3 separate regions of the Homo sapiens genome follow, and all the other regions are reported to be linked to region 1. The links are microRNA targets in miRTarBase. Many come from high-throughput screens and were not tested one by one. Region 1 holds a microRNA gene; each other region holds the end of a gene's coding sequence.
The links. The annotated mature microRNA hsa-miR-297 reads AUGUAUGUGUGCAUGUGCAUG and lies in region 1 at 2,597-2,617, shown strand. An mRNA with a match to its seed (bases 2 to 7 or 8) in the 3' UTR can be bound and repressed. Matches are read on the target gene's strand: a 7mer-m8 pairs with bases 2 to 8, a 7mer-A1 pairs with bases 2 to 7 and ends in A, and an 8mer does both.

Region 1 (7,207 bases):
CTATTGCTTATCCAAAAGTTAAATATAACTCAGTGTCTTGTATTTTATCTGGCAAGCCTAATAAAAGTGAATTTTTACTTATTAATATATCATTTATCACAGTTTCATCTGTTACTTATCAAAGGATTTCTATGCAACAAAGTCAGTTTTACACATTTAATAGCTATGACTTCTGCTAGTCTCAGGGAATACCGTCTCTTCCAAATTTACTCAACATGGTGTTTTTCCTTTATTTAGGGATGAACCTAAATAAAGAAGGGACCAGTTGTCAGCTTCTACACTTCCAGCACTGAAGCAAGGAGCAAAGGTAGGATTTATTAGCTAACATGTATTAAGGGCTTCCATATGAGCCAAGCAGTATGCTGAGTTCTGTACATTCATTATCTTCTTTAACCCTCACAACAGCCTTCTGAGGTGAGTGCTATTATTATCACCATTTTACAGATGAGGAAACTGAGGTAGGAAATGTCAAATTACTTGATCAAGGTTTGAATGGGAGTCAGTGGGAAGGCTGACCTGAAACTCAAAGCTTTCTGACTTTGTCAGTCTGCTTTTCCTCCCAGTTAGGACAGAAGCAGTTGTATTTGCCCCATCCTTCTTGAGAGAACCCTTTACCCCGCCTGCACCACTCTCATTCTCTTAAAAATATGAAATATTAAATATAAGGATTGCCACATCCCATGCAACCCCAGTCAGGTGCCTCACAACTCTACAACCTGAGGCCATATGAAGGCAACCCAGGTATTTCTGGGCACAGAGAGAAGTGAACCAAAGGACTGCCCATTTGGTTTACTGTCCATAAAATTACTGAGTAAAATGTTAAACATTTTCTTCTCTTCAAAATAATGATCAACTCGATCTTTCAGAAAAAATTTTCAAAGCTTTGAAAAGGTTTTTTTTGAACTCTTCACTTATTTTTATTTATAATGGCATATAATAACTGTACATATTTATTGGGTATAATGTTTCAATACATGTATCTATAGTATAATGGTCAAATTGGAGTAATTATAGCTATCACTTTAACTACTTAGCATTTCTTTGTGGTGGCAACATTCAAAATCTTCTCTTCTAGCTGTCTTGAAATATACAATACATTGGCATTTGCTGTAGTCACTCTACTGTGAAACAGAACACCAAAACTGAAAAGTTATATTTTAAAATAATCCTTTTCTACACTTCAAGTCTACATTCTTTAAAAATAATAACAGATCTGAATTCTACTCATTCAACCATTAATTAAGAATAACTATAACTTTATAACTTTTTAAAATAAGATTTGTACAGAAGTTTTGTTTCCTTGTTTGTTTGCTTGGAAAGGTTTTTGGTTGATACTTACGTAAGTGACAGGCTCTGCTTACATGCATGACCAACATTATCTTAGTCTAATCCCACAACAACCTCATCTGGTAGGTATATTTTCCAGATAAGGAAACTAAGGAACAGAGATGTTACATAACTTGCCCAGTCACACAGCTAGTAAGCTGAGAAACCAAGATTCAGGCCAGGCAGTTTGTTTCCAGTTTTCCCTTTTTTTTTTTTTTTTTGAAACAGAGTCTTGCTCTGTCGCCCAGCCTGGAGTGCAATGGTGCGATAGGGGCTCACTGCAACCTCTGCCTCCCGGGTTTAAGTGATTCTCCTGCCTCAGCCTCCAGAGTAGCTGGGATTACAGGCACCCACCACCATGCCCAGCTAATTTTTGTATTTTTAGTGGAGACGGGGGTTCACCATGTTGATCAGGCTGCTCTTGAACTCCTGACCTCAAGCAGTCCACCCACCTCAGACTCCCAAAGTGCTGGGATTACAGGCATGAGCCACTGCGCCCAGCCCAGTTTTCCATTCTTAATCAGTAGGCTCTTGTTTGAGAATATTTTATTCTTAATGATGGTATTACTCATTTTTGTACTTTATACAATGGAGTACTTCGTGTTTGGAATGGCTTCCTTGTCCATATCTTTGTAAGGTTGAGGCCAATTTTTCTGAAGGTCTAAAGATCAGGCCCAAAAGAGAGACCACATAATCACTTTGCGTTCCTTCCTCAGTAATCTCCACAACTCATTTTGTGTCAGAAATTCACCACTGCACAATAACAGGCCAACAGTGGCCAGAGTTGGCTCCCATGCTGTAAGGTTGGAGGAAGGACACACCAGGCTTCCTAAGTACTTCACACAAGGCTGCCAAAGGATTAGCTGGATGTTCCTGTGCCAGGTTCACTTAACAGGAACATGGCAAGTTGTGGAGACTAATTGGTTCTCACAGGTATTTGGGGTAATGTAAAAATACAACTGCAGGAAAGGCAATTTCCCCCTAGAATGTGACTTGCTCCTGTAAATACAATATATTTTACAGGTTTTAATGCATGTGAAATATTTATCATTGGCATGAAAATTTAAAATATATACCATTTTCCCTTTCATGCCAAAGGGCTTCTATACCCATCACAATTAAAATTAAATATGGAGTAATAGCATAGCTTTTTACTCTGATTCCCTTTTCCCCATTTTGTAAATTCACAGCTTTAACCCATGGCCACCTGCCTGAACGATGGCTTATTTCCAACTCAAGATCTCTTTCTACATACTTTATGAACATATGTATGTATGTGTGCATGTGCATGTATGTGTATATACATATATATGTATTATGTACTCATATATCAAGGAGATTTCATTTCTATTTTTAATCTATGGTATAACTTCTGCATTGATCATATAGTCATGAACCACACGAAAAAGTTCCAGTCAACGACAGACCACAAATGTGACAGTTGTCCCATAAGAAGAAAATGGAGCTGAAAAATTCCTATCACCTAATGGCGTCGTAGCCATCATAATGTAATAGCAAATGCATTACTCATGCGTTTTTGGTGATGTTGGTGTAAATAAACCTACAGTGCTGCCAGTCATATAATATTACAGCACATACAATTATCCACAATACATAACACTTGATAATGACGAATATGTTACTGGCTTATATATTTACTATAGTAAACTTTTATTGCTATTTTAGGGTATACTGCCTCAACTTATAAAAAAAAAGTTAACTATAAAACAGCCTCAGGCAGGTCCTTCAGGAGGTATCCAGAAGAAGGCATTGTTATAGCAGATTACAGCTCCATTTGTGTTACTATTTCCAGTTTTCCACTCTTAATAGAGCTTCTACTGGGACAAGAGGTGGAGATGGAAGGCAGTGATACTGATGATCCTGACCCTGTGTAGGCCTAGGCTATGTGTATGTTTCTGTCTTAGTTTTTAACAAGAAAGTTGAAAAAGTAAAATATATATATATATATATGATCTTTGAAATAGAAAAAAGCTTATAGAATAAGAATATAAAGAAAGAAAACATTTTTGTACAGCGATACAATGTGTTTATATTTTAAACTAAATGTTATTACAGAAAGAGTCAAAAAGTAAAAAAATACAAGTTTATAAAGTAAAAAAGCCATGGTAAGCTAAAGTTAATTTATTATTTAAGAAAGAAGATTTTTTTTTAATTTAGTGTAGCCTAGTTCACTGTGTTTATAAAATCCACAGTAGTGGACAGTAATGTCCTAGGCCTTCACCTTCACTCACCACTCACTCACTGATTCACCCAGAGCAACTTCCAGTCCTACAAGCTCCATGCATGGTAAGTGCCCTATACAGGTTTACCATTTTTTGTCTTTTATACCATATTTTACCTTTTATATGTTTAGAAATGTTTAGATACACAAATGCTTGCCATTGTGTAACAGTTGCCTAAAGCATTTAGTACAGTAACGTGCTGACTGAATACTTATTCAGAATTCTGCTATTTCTGTTGGAGTGCTGCATCATAGTCCTCAGAGGCACACAGATCTCACTACCTAGGGTCTACAGGCATCAAGTCATAGGTCTGAGAGAGAGATTGAAGGATTAAAAAGAAGAGGGGCAAAGAGAAATTAGAGTCTAAAAGGGGAAAAGGGATCACATTTGCCAGCCCCACTCTATCTCCAAATGTCTTTTCTGATCAATCTCATAATCAATTGATAATAAAAGTAGCCAAAAGATTATACTAACTATATATCTAACCCTTAAATAAAAATCACTCTCTGCCAGGAACTATTCTAAGCTCTTTATAATAATAACACATTCCATCCTTATAACAACTTTATGACAAATTATAAATTGCCCCATTTTATATACCTTAAACTTTCCTTCTCACATCTCATTATTCTAAGCTAATCTAAAGAAATGTCTTATTTTCTTTAATTTCAAAGCAGATATTTCAGCAATACTCTTTTCCTCGCCACACCTTTTTGGGCCACTAAGAAGAAAACTAACTTGTGCCCCCTTTGAGTCCTTTCATTGAAGGAAACTTTGGGAGGCAAATAGAGCCATAACATCTGCCTATGGGCTTTCGACTGAAGTACTGGGTACTAAATCTCATCTCCCACATGGGAAGTCAGTTCCTGACTTGGGGTCAGGAAAGAATGAGAGGGAATCCCCTCAGCGGCTCCATAAATTATCTACCTATATGCACACACAGCATTCAAGGAGTCAAGAGTGCCACACATTCAGAATATGAAAATAACAGCAACAACAACATTTGATCTGAATTTATTTTTTAAACAAGAAAGAAAAGTATTTGATCTGAATATTAAAAAGGAATTAAAGGCCGGGTGCTGTGGCTCACACCTGTAATCCCAACACTTTGGGAGGCTGAGGTGGGTGAATCGCTTGAGCCCAGGAGTTGGAGATCGGGCTGGACAACAAAGTGAGACCCACTTTCTACAAAAAAATACAAAAATTAGCCAGGCATGGTGGCACACGTGTATGGTCCCAGCTACTTGGGAGGCTGAAGTGGGAGGATCAGTTGAGCCTGGGAGGTCAAGGCTGCAGTGACCCAAGATTGCGCCAGCCTCGACAGCAGAGCAAGACCCTGTCCCCCCACAAAAAATTAATAGTATTAAATAGTTGTAAATTATGATAGTGCCAAACTGAGCATTAGTCTATTGGCTTTAATGTTTGACAAAGCAATTTAATACTGACCAATATCAGAGCCATATGAATAATAATAAATTATATACATCATAAATTATATGTATTTCATAATTAGTTTTTCTCATAGTGTAGTAAAAAGCAAGTACTGAAACTCATTACAGTATTTAGCCTGCTAATACCTTGTTGCCAGAAGTAATAATTGTAACTGTCAATATGGCCGTTAAATTTACCTTCACATGACCATTAACACTTTGTCTCAGTTTTCAAGCTTTCTTTGTTAACTACTAGTTAGACTTTGAGACCTTTCAACACAATTAATTGTTATGATTTGCAAGTGATGATAGAACAGGTCACTGATTCCCTGTTACCCAAAGCAGCCTTACTGCAGAATAAAGGTGCATTTTGCAAACTACCTGTTTTCACAGTGCATAAGGGAGAGGCTAGTAAAACTCTACTATATTGTATTATATTAATATAATTAATGCTAGATACAAGGTTTTCTTTTCCTTTGATACATGATTAAGAAGTTTTTATTTAGGTCGGGTACGTTACTCTGAATTAAATTCTCCCCCCTACACCCACCTTTTTCTAAGATTTCATTTCAAGGGCTTGCATTTTGAATGGCACTAAATTCAAAAAGCACTTGAGTGCAGGTGGCACTGAATTAAATATTATGTTAATAGAAACCTATTAGCATAATTCCTAACCTACAATAATTTCCTAGGGTGAACAATAGTCATGGAAACCCATAAACCAAAATGTATATGATCAAATAAAATATTAAGAGAATAATTGATAACCATGTGCTAGGCTTTCCTCAAAGCATATTACATATAATAATTTATTTAATGCTCACAACAACATGATGGGTTTCATACTATTATTTTCCTCATGCTGCAGATGAAGAAATTAATGCAAATAGATAGTAAGTAGCAGGCAGAAGATTCAAATCCCAGGGTCCATGCTTTTAACTCCTACACTCTACTACTGCCTCTTGCCCATAAAGGGATGCAATGCCACCGATATATGTCTAGGAGTATGAGGCTGCTGAAAAATACTAGACAAGCCAAGAATGAGTTCCATATTCAGATTGTATGTTTAAATCTAGGAAAACTCTTCAAAAGACAGGGTCTAGGATATTATTATATAATATAAATGCTTAGGTATTCCAATAATAAAAACTTTTTATGAAAAGGGAACTCTTCTAAAGGAAAGCCAAGACAAGGTAAGGAGAACAAAAAGGTTAAATTGTTACATGTTAGCATCAGATGGAAATGAGGCACAAAGGTGTAGGTCTTTGAAGTACAGGGTAAGGATCTTGGGTTTGCTCCAAAAATAATAAGAAATTATATGATAAGTAGGTCATGGCATAGTAACATGGAGCAGCAGAATAGTTAACACCAGCAGTCAGATTAAATAGGGTGCTAGCAAATAGAACAGAATCCTGACAAATTAATGATACTAATTGTTTACTAGATTTCCCATCTTCCTTTTACTGAGATGACTGACACAAGAACTGGGGCCATACATTGGGTTAGAAGAAGAGTTAGAAAAGACAGAACTTATCTGTCAAGATGTTAAACGTGCAAACACTAATTTACACAATTTCTTCTTTGTGAGTACCAACAAGTTTTGAATTTTGAAAAATACAAATGGCCAATGACTACTAATGATCTATAATAGTGATTTTTCAAATTATAACTTGCACTGGAATCAGCTGGACAGCTTGTTAAAAGATTGCTAGCCCCCACTCCCAAAGTTTCTGGTTTAGTTAATCTGGGGTGGGGCCTAGGAATTTACATCACTAAGAGCTCCCAGGTGATGCTTATGAGTCTGGTCCAGGGACCAGGCTTGGAGAACCACTGATCAGATAAAAAGGAGTTGAACATTTTAAAAACATCCTAAATGGTCCACTTAAGAAACTACATTGGCACACTATGTTTATAAATCAGAATATAAAACAAGTGAAATGATATTGCCAAGAAAAATAACCTGAATCCAACTCAACTTTCAATTTTTCAAAGTGCATAGGACACAAGAACATGTTTAAAAACACAACAAGGATATAATCAGCAAAGTTCAGACTGTAGGTAACCCTGTAGGAAAAATATGTCGTTTCTTGAACAAAGAAACTACAGGGGGAAAAAAGAGAAAGAGAAAGAAGGGAAAGTCTATTGATTAAAAGAGTCTTATGGACATATTAACCAGTTGTGATGCCTGGAGAGTTTTTGATGCCAATG
Region 2 (7,207 bases), not on the chromosome of region 1:
CTGAAGTCATAAAAGGGGAAAGTAAAAGGGTGGCTGCCAGGGGATGGATGTGGGGAAGGGAGGGGAGATGGTGGTTGGAGGGTACAAAGTTTAGTTAGACAGGAGGAAGAAATGTTTTAGACCATTGCGCAGCATGGTAACTATCATTCATAATGTACTGTATATTTCCAAATTGCCAAGAAGGTACATTTCAAATGTTCCCTCCACAAGAAAAATGCTAAGGATGTGAGGTGATGGATATGCTAGCCAGCTTGACTTTATCATTCCTCCTGGTATACTTGTCAAAATATCACATTGTACCCCATCAATATCTATAAAATTTGTCAAGTAAAAATGAAAATAAATTTGAAAAAGATCTTAGGCCTACTTTATTCTAATGTAAAATATGATCTGTAGAAATTCTACTTTTAAAAAATATTTTATTCAATTATATCCCCTCAACTGGTTTTATTTTCATGGGAAAAGTTTTCAGTTACTGAAGGTGATAAATCTCTGAAACAAGAACTAATCCCATACCTAGGATATATTAATTAATTAAATGTCTTCACTTACTTACCAGTGGCAGAGAAATGTTCCAAAAATTTTAAAAAGCTAAAAATCTTTTCACTTTGCTCTTATAATATTTGAGAATTTTCACACAAGAGCTTGAACTCTCCAATCTAAGTAGGACAGAAATACCTGTGTCATATTAATTATGTTAGAGTTAGGTGAACATAGAGAATGGTCCCCAAAAACAATGCTGTCCACACTTTGAGTTTAAGAGTTGTTCTAGACGTATTATGGTGAAGTGGTCATGCATCACCTGTGCTTTCTTATTTGCCTCTACAGGGATGCCAGATGATATGAACTTCAGTGATGTAAAGCAAATCCATCAAACAGACACTGGCAGTACTTTAGACACAACAGGAGCAGGATGTGCAGTGGCGACTGAATCTATGACATTCACTCTGATAAGTGTGGTGATGTTACTTCCCGGGATTTGGTAACTGAACTCTTCTGTCCTGACATACCTTACTGAAGTCTCGATTTCTTCTCTCTCTGCATATGCCTGGAATAAGAGATCCTTTTTCAATGTAACAATTATATTTATGAAAAGATATGTTACACTAACTTCTCAGAAGCCAAGCTGAAATATTCATAAAGTCCCTAAAACTCAACGTTTAAATGACACACTTTAAAAATATGTCTTTTTTCAATCTAACTGAAAACCTTCTTAACTTCTAATATATTAAATCTGAAGATGTGAAGGGCACAGAAGTGACTTTGAATAAGAAGAATTTAGTGTATCTGTAATTTTATTATCAATTCCAAGCCCCTTCCTTTCTAAATTAAAAATGTTTTCATTTGAAAGTGTATTTGCCAGACAATGAAAACAGTATGCAGTATTTCTTAAAGTATTGAAATTAGAATATCATGAAATAAATCAAAACATACAATGGCAAGTAGTATGCATGCATATTCAAGAGACTCTTCCATTTTTGCAAGCTGTAGAAGGAAATGTCTGAATGTCTATAAGTTATGGGGTAGATTCTTGAGAAGCATTTCATATAATTTCACTGAAGAACCTTGATAATTTTGACCCACTGTAACTTAGCCACTGATGAACCTTAAAGCTGAGTATTTTATTAACACCTGATTTGTATTCCATTATATTCAAAATGCATCTTTGGTATTGTGCCTCTGCTCCCATCTCTCTCTTTGCCTCATAGATTTAGCTATGTTGGGAAGCACATGCTTGCTCTAGGAATATCTCCAATAAAGCTGTTAACTATTTGGTGGAAAAATTTGAAGAATATTTGTCATTTTCTTCTGGCAAAAATGCTATTTTCACCCATTTTCAAAATATTATGTACTACTTTTTAAAGCCTGATGTTGTACAATTGGCTACCTTTGCATTTCTAAGGTTCCTATGAATATCTGCAGACATGTACAGAAAAGATGATATGCAACACTTTAGCTCTTTCCTATTTGCTCATTAATGGAGCTGCAAACCAACAGTCCCTAATTTCTCAGTTGGGATAAGTTGCCTCAATAGACACTAATAGGATATGTATATGGCTATACTTGAGGAAAAGAGAAGTTAGTTTTTATTAATAAGTATCACATCCAGTCTACAGAGAGAAAATATAATTAATACAAAGTCACAGAATAGAAAAGGGAATTGCTGACCTCAAATAAAAAAAAACAAAAAAAAATTTGAAATGACTTCTGACAAAGACGTAAACAAGACACAGCCAAATGCAAACATTAATAAGGTAAAATCCGTTTCTGCTAGTCAGGAAACAATATATGATCAAACCTTGTTCTCGCTTAAGTTCTCAATTAACAAAATGATCTAAGGATGGTTAGTTTAAATCACAACATTTTTAAGCTGCCCAATCAGGTTTTACCCTCCATTCAAACATGCCTCAGAACCGTAAGTGTTATTCTACCCATCAGTTGTGGATGCCATTTTCCTAGGCTTCCATTCCACACCTAACATTCCCTGATCCATTCAGTTAATAACTCATTTGCACTCACCTTGACACACTCCACAAATTACAAACTTAACCCTATTTTGAAAATTTTTTACTTCAACCTCAGCTCTTCATTTAAATCAGTCTTGGAAAAAAGTGATACTAAGGCACTCATTTGCTGCCCTCCAGCCCAAGTCATGATTGGCTTGCTACGGCAAAATTTCAGACCCAACTTAAGAGGAATTTAATTCTAAAGACAAACAAACTGAAGAGCATGCTTTAGCAGTCTAAGATATATGGATAAAATTAATTGACAGAAGATAATTTCAGATATGGCAAGAAATGGACAAAAGCAGAGTGGTAAAGTCAATACAAGAAATGATTATTTTTTTTTAAACTAAGTTTTACATGCTCAGATGGGTGTTATCTGCAGGTGGGCACTTTGGGGACTATATAAGCAATAATGGTGTTACTAGAGCTTAAAACACTGGGGTTTTCAGAATTTCTTTAAAAGCCTAAGGCAAAATTGTTAATATTCTCAGTAAGGATATACTTATCCATTAACACTTCCCATTCTGTGACATTTCATATCTACATAGTTTCTTATGAATTGCAAAGCTCTTTCAAATGAGAGAGAGTATCTCATTTGGACTTTCTTCGCCCCCTCAAAGATAGGCTTGATTTTCAGTCAAATAAAAACAATAATGCTGATTTTTTATATGGCTCAGAATTTGCTTCTGGAGAGTTTTTCATTAATAAGGTCTAAGAAAGTTTTGAGCAATGATACAAGTGTTGGATATGTGTCTACTTTCCAAGATTATTTAATAGATTACATCAGACTGAATGTATGTATTTAAAAATATCACACACATAGTCACATTTTATGCTGGTGTAATTTTTAAAAGAGCCATATTCTTGAATCCCGGAGTTATTTTTATGAGTTTAAGTAATCATAAAACTTCGTCTGATATTTTGCATATATTGGGGAGACTAGGTTTAGAAGCAGAACTAACATTTACTTGGCCTTTCTTTGTATACGCACCATGATAAATGCCTTGATGCACAATGTCATTTAATCTCCCCAAAAACACTGACATTTCCATTTTACCAATGAGAAAACTGAGCTTATAAATATTAGGGAATTTGACAGATGTCATACAACTAATCATAACAGAGTTAGATGGTGAGTATGATACCTTTAAATAAACTGTATACCTTTCTGGTTCAAAGATACAGTTTTGGAACAACAGCGAGGAACTACAGGTTAGCACAAAAATCATTCAGAGACTACTTAAGTCTCCAAACTAGGATTTAACAAATACAGTTGGCTATAGAATAATTGTCTAATTACCAAAATGCACATTAGTGTAGAAACATAATAAAAAGGAGAAGTGTAAACATGGACTTTTTTTAGTACCATTCATTACCCTCCCATATATTCAAACCCACTCTAAACACATCAGCCCTGAAAATAAATCAGCTGCCGAGAATGAGAAAGAAAACACAACTGTTTTAACTCTAATGGGATCATGAAGTTTATTTTAGTTTCCTTTGCAACAAAAAGGTATAAAACATTTCTTTGGCTATAGGATGGCATAAAAAAATGAAAGGAAGGAGAGGAGGAAGGAAGGAAGGAAAGGAGGGAGGAGGGAGGGAAGGAGGGAGGGAAGGAAGAAGGGAAGGAAGGGAAAGGGCATGGCAGAAAATTATTTTTTAAATCTTAGATTTGCCTTTATCCTCTATTTATTCTGTGAATAAATAATGTCTGCATGGTTACAGTACATGGTACAATAAAATAATGTCTGCATGGTTATCTTCTCACTAAAAAAGGACTGAGGTTAATAAGCTCTTTCCTCCCAACACTCAGATTTTCTGAAGTGCTCAATAATGATGCTTTGAAAAGGACTAAATTCATTTATTACTAACTGTTTGCTATCATATAAAATATTGTTTCTAACATCAGAATCCTTCAAGGACAATAAAAATGATTTTTTTCTTGAATGAATATATTCAACCTAGACGTCTCTTATTCTGAATGAGAACTTTGTTGAGCAGGCTACATCACTATTGTATTTAGTTTGCAACCTTTAATGTCATTCATATACAATTACATGGGTTATGAAAATTCAGAAATAATAATTTCTAATGTTGTTAGGTATGAATGTGAACATATCAAGTTTTTCTTTAAATGCAGATTGTTGTATACAAGTCATTTTTGATTAAAATACAGATAAAACATATTTCTCAAGTCAAAAGTCTGCTTTCCTTGCCTTTAGTAAAATTACAGAGTGACTGAATTACTGTTATAATTACTTTATGACTAGAGATCTAATCAAATATAATTCTTAAGCTATCCTTTCTGCCTCCTTGCACAGAGAAAACTGAGTAATTTCATCACAATATAATTTATATTTCCATAGCAGAAAACAATAACTTATTTGGAAGAGAGTAGAGTAGGAGTGGATGTCCATGGTTACTTTTTGGAAACATCTGATTTAAGAGACTTTTGCCTTCCTGCACTTGCCAATTCTCACACTGGAATCAACTTCATGAAAATGTGTGTGAGAAGATCACGCATCTTATTTTCCCCTTAAAATTTTACTTTGACTACATTGAAGACCAGAGTGAAAGACAATATATCAGAATTTGAAAGACCATAGAATTAAGAACAGAACGGTGAACATTTAAGGATCAAAACTGGTTGGAGACAGAAGGAATGGGACTGACTGCAGTAATAAGTAAATTCTTACTTTTATGAGTTTGATACCCACCTTTAAACATGTTGGATTGGAAGGAATGAAGACTCTTAGAAAAAAAGGGAGGTCTCTGATTTTCCTGAGATTACTCAGCCAAGACCACTAGCATAACAAGAAGAAAGAAAAACGAAGAACAAGAACAAGAAGGCCCAGCTGTAAGACAAATGCTGTGAACGGTATAGTATGTTCCAGAAAGAGTGACTCCATAATTGTGATCAAAGAGTTCCAGGACCCAATTTGCAAAGTCAATGTGATTTGCTCACCCAGGGCACATTCTCACTTCTCTCCTTGACCCCCCCACCCTGCCGCTCCATCCATATACATACTCATTCCCCACATACATTTTCTGGCTACTGTCTCTATTTCCTTTCTCTTTTCTTATCTGTAAAAATTGAGATAACTGTATCTACCTCACAGTGTTACTTAGAGAACTAGATAATCCAACACCTATTAGGACCCTGCTGGCCCATGATGAGCCATAATGATTCGTGTTTGTTCCCTTCCCACAGAGCTTTCTGTTAAAGTGCACATGTTTCCAGGATGGGACAACACTAGAATATTTAGTTATGGATTCTGCCTGTCAATAAGTTTTTGATAGGGGAAGAGATCTGTGTTAGTCTGTTTTCATACTACTATAAAGAACTACCTGAGACTGGATAATTTATGAAGAAAAGAGGTTTAATTGACTCACAGTTCTGTAGGTTGTACAGTAGGCATAGCTGGGAAGGCCTCAGGAAACTTACAATCATGGTAGAAGGCAAAAGGGAAGCAGGCACAATCTTCACATGGCAGCAGGAGAGAGAGAGTGAATGGGGAAGTGCAACCCACTTTCAAACAACCTGATCTTGTGAAAACTCACTGTCAAGAGAACAGCAAGGGGAAACTCCAGCCCCATGAACAAATAACCTCCCACCAGGTCCCTTCCTAACACTGGGAATTAAAATTCAACACGATATTTCGGTGAGGACCTGGAGCCAAACCATATCCAGAGCGTAGAGAAGATGGTTGGAGAGTGAATGAGTAGGGTTCAGGAAAGGGAAAGAGAAGAGAAGCAATGGACTCTGGAATGCACAAGAAACCCATACTGCCTGCTTCATGTTTCATGTTTTGCCTGGACTCATCCTGGCTATGAGGCTTATTCACTGAAAGTTTATTTTTTTAAGTATTGGGAGTAAGTGGTCTTTCTTTCATTGAATATAAAAGGATATTAGCTCTGACCCAGTATTCAAATGTGAATTGGTGTCTACAATGACAAATTTAGAGACCTCCAAACCTTGCTTGAAGGTCTCCTTGACTGGTGTATTTAGACCTCCATCTCTGTGGGATTATTATACTGTGGGTTACCAGTACAACCCAAGCGCGGTGGGAAGAACAAATATGAGTAAACAAGAAGTGTGTTGCTCAGTATCTCACCTAAGTTACCCCCAAGTGGTTATTTCTGAGAGGCAAAATCACTTCATTAAGGTCACATTGCCAGTGATAGACAAAGCAAGCATTCTAAAATCAGCCTTCAAAATCCTTTTTTCCACTGCACCACTCAGTATCCCAGGGTTCAGAAAACTTTTGATAGGTCAATTAGGTTAGGTTAGGCTACTTGAAGGCTGTATAGGCTATTTTTAAATGTTCCCTTGTTTTATTCACTTTCTAAAATGTCTTCTCTCTAAGATATTTTATTTTTCATTTGTCTTTCATCTCAAATTTAGCTCTAGTAGTAAGGTTGAGGATCCTGAGGAGATTCCATATGCCAGGTGCCCTAGTGTGGCCATATGATGGGGTAGTTGGCTCGTTCATTGACTCACAAGCATCCAAAAATGCTGGAGAAAACAGCAAATGGAGCTTCAAAGGCTTTAGCAGTAATTTTCTGTATGACCTTCGGCAAGTCCTGTAACTCTTTGAACTTCAGTTCTTTATTTGTAAAATAATGTGGTTGAGCCAGATAATCCCTAAATTTTCTTATGTATTTTTAGAATTCTAGATTTCTAGGCCAAAACAGAA
Region 3 (7,207 bases), not on the chromosome of region 1:
AAGTTGCAATGAGCCCAGATCGCGCCACTGCACTCCAGCCTGGGTGACAGACTGAGACTTCGTCTCAAAAAAAAAAAAAAAACAAAAAAAAAGAATATTTCCTCCCAACCAATAGCAACGATCCCCACCCTCAGAGAAAGTGGTAATTCACAGCTCCTTTGATTTTCCAGGTTCAGGACATGGGGAAGAAGCTGGACTTCCTCGTGGATATGCACATGCAACACATGGAACGGTTGCAGGTGCAGGTCACGGAGTATTACCCAACCAAGGGCACCTCCTCGCCAGCTGAAGCAGAGAAGAAGGAGGACAACAGGTATTCCGATTTGAAAACCATCATCTGCAACTATTCTGAGACAGGCCCCCCGGAACCACCCTACAGCTTCCACCAGGTGACCATTGACAAAGTCAGCCCCTATGGGTTTTTTGCACATGACCCTGTGAACCTGCCCCGAGGGGGACCCAGTTCTGGAAAGGTTCAGGCAACTCCTCCTTCCTCAGCAACAACGTATGTGGAGAGGCCCACGGTCCTGCCTATCTTGACTCTTCTCGACTCCCGAGTGAGCTGCCACTCCCAGGCTGACCTGCAGGGCCCCTACTCGGACCGAATCTCCCCCCGGCAGAGACGTAGCATCACGCGAGACAGTGACACACCTCTGTCCCTGATGTCGGTCAACCACGAGGAGCTGGAGAGGTCTCCAAGTGGCTTCAGCATCTCCCAGGACAGAGATGATTATGTGTTCGGCCCCAATGGGGGGTCGAGCTGGATGAGGGAGAAGCGGTACCTCGCCGAGGGTGAGACGGACACAGACACGGACCCCTTCACGCCCAGCGGCTCCATGCCTCTGTCGTCCACAGGGGATGGGATTTCTGATTCAGTATGGACCCCTTCCAATAAGCCCATTTAAAAGAGGTCACTGGCTGACCCCTCCTTGTAATGTAGACAGACTTTGTATAGTTCACTTACTCTTACACCCGACGCTTACCAGCGGGGACACCAATGGCTGCATCAAATGCATGCGTGTGCGTGGTGGCCCCACCCAGGCAGGGGCTTCCCACAGCCTCTTCCTCCCCATGTCACCACAACAAAGTGCTTCCTTTTCAGCATGGTTTGCATGACTTTACACTATATAAATGGTTCCGCTAATCTCTTCTAGGATACACATTTATCTGCTGTTCTTACTTTTAATCACGATTGGACCAGTACAGGGAGAAATTACTGATGAGCCATGCTATTTGTCTGTTTGGTTGGCTGGTTTGGGTTTTGGTTTGGTAAGCAGAGAAAGTAGTTTAAGTTATTTCTAGGATCACTGCCCTCTTGTGTAAAACGCTCCAGCAATTAACTGTTTTTGAAAGCAAGGAAATAATTTTCTCAACAAAACCACATTGTGTATCAGTGGGGCTGCCTACTGAGCTAACATTAGGAAAGGAATGAGATAGTCATTGTGTCTCTAAAACAAAGAATTTAAACAAATATTTAAGGCAAAACCTTTTAAAAGCTCTCCAAAAGACCTCACTTGGCCTGATGTTACTTAGTATCATGCCTCAGTTTCCTTATCTGTAAAAAGTGGTGGTAATCCCAAGTGTAGCATTTCTGATGAGTTATGAATTGGCAGGGAGAAAACACACACACACACACACACACACACACACACACACACATACACAAAGTTAAAATAGTTTCCAATTTATGTAGCCAAGGACAATGGAATTTATCAGAAGTGAAGTGCCCCTCTGGGCAGGAGCTGAGTTCAGTGCCTTTAAAATGAATTTCCAACTCTCATTTCTTCCCATGATACTGAAGTACAAAATATCCATCTAAAATAGAAATTAAAGTCAAGAAGGCACACAGAAATTTTCTAGTCCAAGGACTTCCTTTTATAAATGAAGAATCTTAGGCTCAGGTAAAGTGACATACCCAGAGTCACTCAGTTGTCCCATAGAGAACCAGGACTCAAAAGTCAGGTCTGCCCACTCTCCCTGACCTTGTTTCCCCTCACCACACCATTCTTCCATTTATATAATGCATCCTAGAGATTGTGTCAAGATATATGACTTTGTGTCGCGTGGAAAGCACCCAGTTTATCCAGCAGGAGGGGGATTTCCACTTTTATTGCAAAACATGCTTGCTTGATGCAATGCATTTCAGATCTAGAAAAAAATAATGCAAGCAAGCTACATTTACAGATGTGTAAACAGGCAAAATTTCCAGAACCGTCCAATTTTACTTTTCCAAATTTATGGAACCAACCCAGATTTTTTAAATGAAAATACTAAAACCATATGTAACCGTAAGACAAGCTAAAATGTAAGCAGACAGCCTGGGAAGCACTGCCCTACTGTACAGGTGTGATATTAAGCACAAGCCATCCTCTGGCCTCTTATGAGATGTTGTTATTCTCTGAAAAACTTTGATGGAAAAGGTTTCTGTTAGGCTTAGACTGAATTAGCTAAATGACCATGCCACAGTATTATTGTATCACTCTTCTCACACACCTAGGCACTGGTTGTGGATAGTTGCCATGGTGACAATCAAGATAATCCAGATGACCTAAACAAATGTCTGTATGCAGCTGACACTGCTATTCTCCCTCACAGTCTTGTCAAGAGCCACAGTAGCTATGGCAGACATTTGGTTGATGGTTTCATCATTTCCTAATACGAGAGTCTGGCACTATGTTGGAGAGAGGAATCACTTCCTCAGAGATAGGTTCCTTTCAACTCACATGTCAACAGTTACTGTACAAAAAGCTCAGAATACAGTAATGATTAGAGCTTGACCCCTGACTTTAGGAACTTAGAACCAAAGCCCAAAGTCCCAGGCCAAGGGCAGACATTGTGAGCAGCAGAAGGGTGTTTTTTATGGAGAGCCCCATAAATGGATGGGTGTAGACCTTGAAGTCTGAGATGGGAAATATACCAGAATGCTCAATGCATCAGACATGAAGCCCCACGGGCTTCCATTTGACATGCTGGCAATCTGAAGGACAAAGGGCATGGGTTATTTGGGCCTTTTCCCCACTCCTTCAATATGGCTGAAAGTGCCAGTGGGGATTACAACCTAAGAAACCCTATGCCCCTTCCTGAGGGCTTGATTATTGAATCCTGATCTTCCTGGAATCTTTCACTTGAGATGATCACCTGCCTAACATCCAACATGTTACTATGCTCTTCTTTATGTACATGAGTTACTGGAAACCAACAATAAAGGAGAGTGAGTCATACTCTCCACATATGCGCCAATTAATTTTTTAACTTACTTATTAGTATTCTTGAAGAACTTACTATCTTAAGTATTTTACCAATAGATGATGCATTTTCCAGCAACTCAATGGAGTTCTACCTTAAAGTATTTACCATTGATCCAAAATTGGAGGAACTACCTTAGATTCTTTTAATAACCTAGAAAGGATTGGAGCTTGTATTATTTCCTAAACCATAGGCAGGCAGTCTAGCTTCCCTGCTGGATCATAAGACCAGGACAGCAGAGATTGGGTTTGTATTGATCAGTAGTAGGGAAGTATTGATTGTCTAACATCTAGTAAGTTGTCTTTATCAGTATAGACATAGACAAAATACATGTTTTATGAATGAATAAATAATAAGAACCTTAAGAGCTGTTTTTTTCCCATTTAAGAAAACAAAAAGGAAAAGAGAAAAATGATCTTCTGGAATAACTCTGCTTTGATATTCTCCTTTTGTTCCCCAAAAAATATATTCCAGAAAGGCAAACCAAACCTGCTCAAGTTGCCTATGCACAGACAATCTCAACAATATGGCTCACAGTGAGCAAGCAGAAATTCAGGGTCTGGAATTGAATGTGAGTTATGGGAAGAAACAGTGTGTGCTTTCACAAAGATCCTTTTGTCAGACAAGGGAACAGCATGATAATCCAATGGAACTGGTTAACATGACCCAAGATGACATGACCACAGATATACTAGTCGTTCTGAAACTTGCCCAAGAAATTGCAATCGTTTCAGCAGAACTCCATGAAATATTGACAAATTAATTCCATCATCAAACTAGGAGTGATATTATCAGGTAAAACTATGATCTCATGTATGTATTTGGTCTTTCTGGGTCACAATGTGACATGAAAAATTTTAAAGGTCATATTTTAGCAAGATCAAAATGAATTAGATAAATCAACTTCACAAATGTTAAGCGAAACATGATCCTATTGAGCTGAGAAAGAAGTACTTGAGATCGTTTGAGTTTTGACTATCAAATGTCAGCACAAAAGCAAATATCAAAAGCTTAAGAAAAAAATTATTTCAGGAAAAGAAAAACACATCAAATTGAGAAAGTGTTGTTGAATAACTTTGTTTTTAGAACTGGAAATTTAGGCTTATTAGACATGACATTGATATTACAAAGCCCTAGTTTTCATGAAAACATAACTAGATAACCCCAAGGTGTATAGGTTAAAATGAACTAATTAATCAACAATTATGCATCCTGTGTCTATTTTGTGCAAGGTACTTCCTAGACACTGTAGTTTGAAAGAATAATTTCCTGTAGAAAAACCTAATCTAATAGGACCTACTCATAATTTGGCAAAATCATCCTCATAATTCCATGCTACTGAAATGGGGGTGTAATAAAGAAAAAATCATTTGTTTATTCATTTAACAGGGTTTATTAAGCACCAATATATGCCCAGAACTTTGCAGTGCACTGGAAGTTCAGAGATAAGAAAACCACAGTTTCTGCCATCAAAATGCTAGGAATCTAGAGGTCTCAAACATCAGAGGTCCCTTCAAACTATGTCTACCAGGAAAATAAAATACCTGATTTCATCCCTGCAAACAACTCTATACAGACAGAAATGCTTCCTAGCTTGGAAACTATAGAAAATTGAACATGAAAATGAGAGCAAAGGTTCTACATCAAAATGGCAATGATCCAATCAGCCCAGTCAAGGCTGAGTGGGTTGAATGGGGACTTCGAGTTTGGATTCAATGCTTTGAACTTCATAGCTCCAGAGAAGCTGTGCAAAAAGGGGGGATTCTAGGGAATCTGAGGAAGATTGTTGGAGAAACCAGCTTTCTTCTTGTCTCCTAATCCCTGCTAAGATTGATACCAGTCAAGGAGCTGAGTTACTTTCATTTCATTATGTTGACCAAGAGAAGCTTATGATACAGACTATGACACAGCACCTATTTCAAGAGAAAGATGTTACTCTACTTATGGGAACCTGCAGATCAAATTCTCCTGGGGCAAGAGAAGAAATTTGTTCAGCAGCCTAAGAAGTCAACTGTACTTTGGACAGTGCTGCCAAACACACCCCAGGATTCTCCCACCCCTGTGCTTTCCCAGAAGATGCCACATAGCTGGTATTTGGTTTTCATGAATAACCAAAGATTCTTCTTTGCTTCCTGAACCCCAGGCATCCTTAGGAATTTGCTTCATGTCCTCACTTGTCCTTGAAGGCTTGTTTTTCAGGATGAACTTTTAAAGTCTAAGTTGTTTATATTCAAATCAACCCAATGCTATTGTTGCTGATATTAAACCATTCCAAACTGAGCCAACTGGCCCCTAAACAAGCCAGCAGGCAGCCCCTCACTAATGCCCAGTTTAGAACATGTTAGGACCAGGCTATCTGCATAGCTTTAGTGGTTTTAGAAGCCAGTAATGGCAGTGTAAAAGAGGAATCATACAGAGATGACCTGGAAGAAAATTTGAGTTTCAGCACATTCAAAAGCATTTGACTCTTCTGCCGTGTTTTGATTTTCAAGTGAGACAATCAATGTACACACAAAGCCTCTAGTACAATGACTGATGCATACTAGGGACTGTTATTTATGTTATTTTTTTACAGTATGCATGGACTTCATTGTCTCAGTCTTTGGTGTTACTTATAAACTCTAAATTTACACCAAAAAAATTTTTTTTCAGAAAAAGAATCGTGGAGAAACAATCCTAATTATTAAATCAAATGCTTTCACAATTGCTTTTTAAATAAGTACATCTCTGCAAATAAAAATGCTTGCTCTTGTCTACCACAATAAAGAACAGAAGGAATCTTGGAATGAAGAGAGGCAGGAATGTTGGATCTCAGTGGCTGAGTTGTGGCAATTCCATTGGACATATAGTACCAGATGTTGCACCATCTGGATGATGTGTAGGAGATAAAGCCAAATTGCAAAAATAAAAGACTCATGATTTCCCAAGGAAAGTCAACTGTGCATGGTGGCTATCAGACAACACCCTAGCAATGAATGGGGGAACTTGCAGAAGAAAGAGTTAATGCTTGCTTAAACCTTCCCTGGGGAGATTTGTTCCCAGGCTTTCACGGCTTTAACCTCAGCAACCCTGTAAGAAAATTGTGATTCATATTTTGATTTGTTATCATAGATGCAAAGAGACATAATTTCATGGATTCTAAGATACACAGAGCAAGAAGAGATTTTGATCACCCAGAACAACCACCTGTCTTTTTAGATCAAGAAGCAGAAGCTCAGAGCAAAGAACATCACACCACGTCCCTCAGTGATTGAAGCAGTGATTGAGTCACAGAATAAATCTGGAACTCAGGTCTTCTGATCTTTGCTCCAGATGTTAGAGACAAAACTAAAAGTAAAATACCAAGTGAAATCAAAGCATCACGATTGAGCCCAGAACATGAAAAAGAACTTCCTGGCCCACTTGAGAAACTGTTAAACCGGACATACCTTTGGGGACTTCTTCCCTTCTCTGGAATAAGATTGATGTTTCCATGCTGTGAAAGACGATGATGTTCCTTCTCCCAGATTCCTGCTGTCTTCAAAAGGCCTAGCAAAAACCACTGCTGCTGGGTGCAGTTGAGAAAGGGAATGAAGAACAATCCCATGGCCATGCAGGCACTCCTCCCCTCCACCTCTCTGCCCTCCACCCCTCTGCCCTCTCCTACCTTGTTCCTTCTTGGTCCTGCCATGTTTGGACTGGTTCACCTTTTTGGCCCATCACTTGGGCTCATTCAGCAACAGTCATGCCTTAGGTTGCATCCTCATCTATAGGCCAATTAAACAGGGTTTCTTCTTGATAAATCCCTATGGTTTTGATTTTAGGAAGTCAGGCATGATTTCTTTTGGGATCTATATGACCCAAAGTGGCCAGTTTTACCAAAGGTGTCCCTTTGCACTGGGATCTCTGGGTCTCATTTGAACACAGCTTGGGTCCTCTTGCCTTGTCCCAGAGAATCCCCATGTTGTCAGGACATAAGCAG

Region 2: the mRNA of GPC5 is a reported target of hsa-miR-297. Seed matches in the 3' UTR shown: 8mer at 1,429-1,436.
Region 3: the mRNA of KCNQ3 is a reported target of hsa-miR-297. Seed matches in the 3' UTR shown: 7mer-m8 at 1,657-1,663.

Annotation. Positions count from the first base shown.
Region 1 is chr4:110,856,034-110,863,240 of GRCh38, reverse strand. MIR297 (microRNA 297) reads left to right here and starts at 2,594; the gene lies at 2,594-2,659.
Region 2 is chr13:92,865,454-92,872,660 of GRCh38, forward strand. It overlaps GPC5 (glypican 5), which reads left to right. Exons shown (of 8, transcript NM_004466.6): 8 at 829-1,784. The coding sequence ends at 986. Among named protein-coding and RNA genes, the nearest start is that of GPC5-AS1, 150 kb to the left of the region's middle.
Region 3 is chr8:132,122,960-132,130,166 of GRCh38, reverse strand. It overlaps KCNQ3 (potassium voltage-gated channel subfamily Q member 3), which reads left to right. Exons shown (of 15, transcript NM_004519.4): 15 at 171-7,207. The coding sequence ends at 905. Among named protein-coding and RNA genes, the nearest start is that of HHLA1, 15 kb to the right of the region's middle. RefSeq lists enhancers at 333-833, 834-1,334.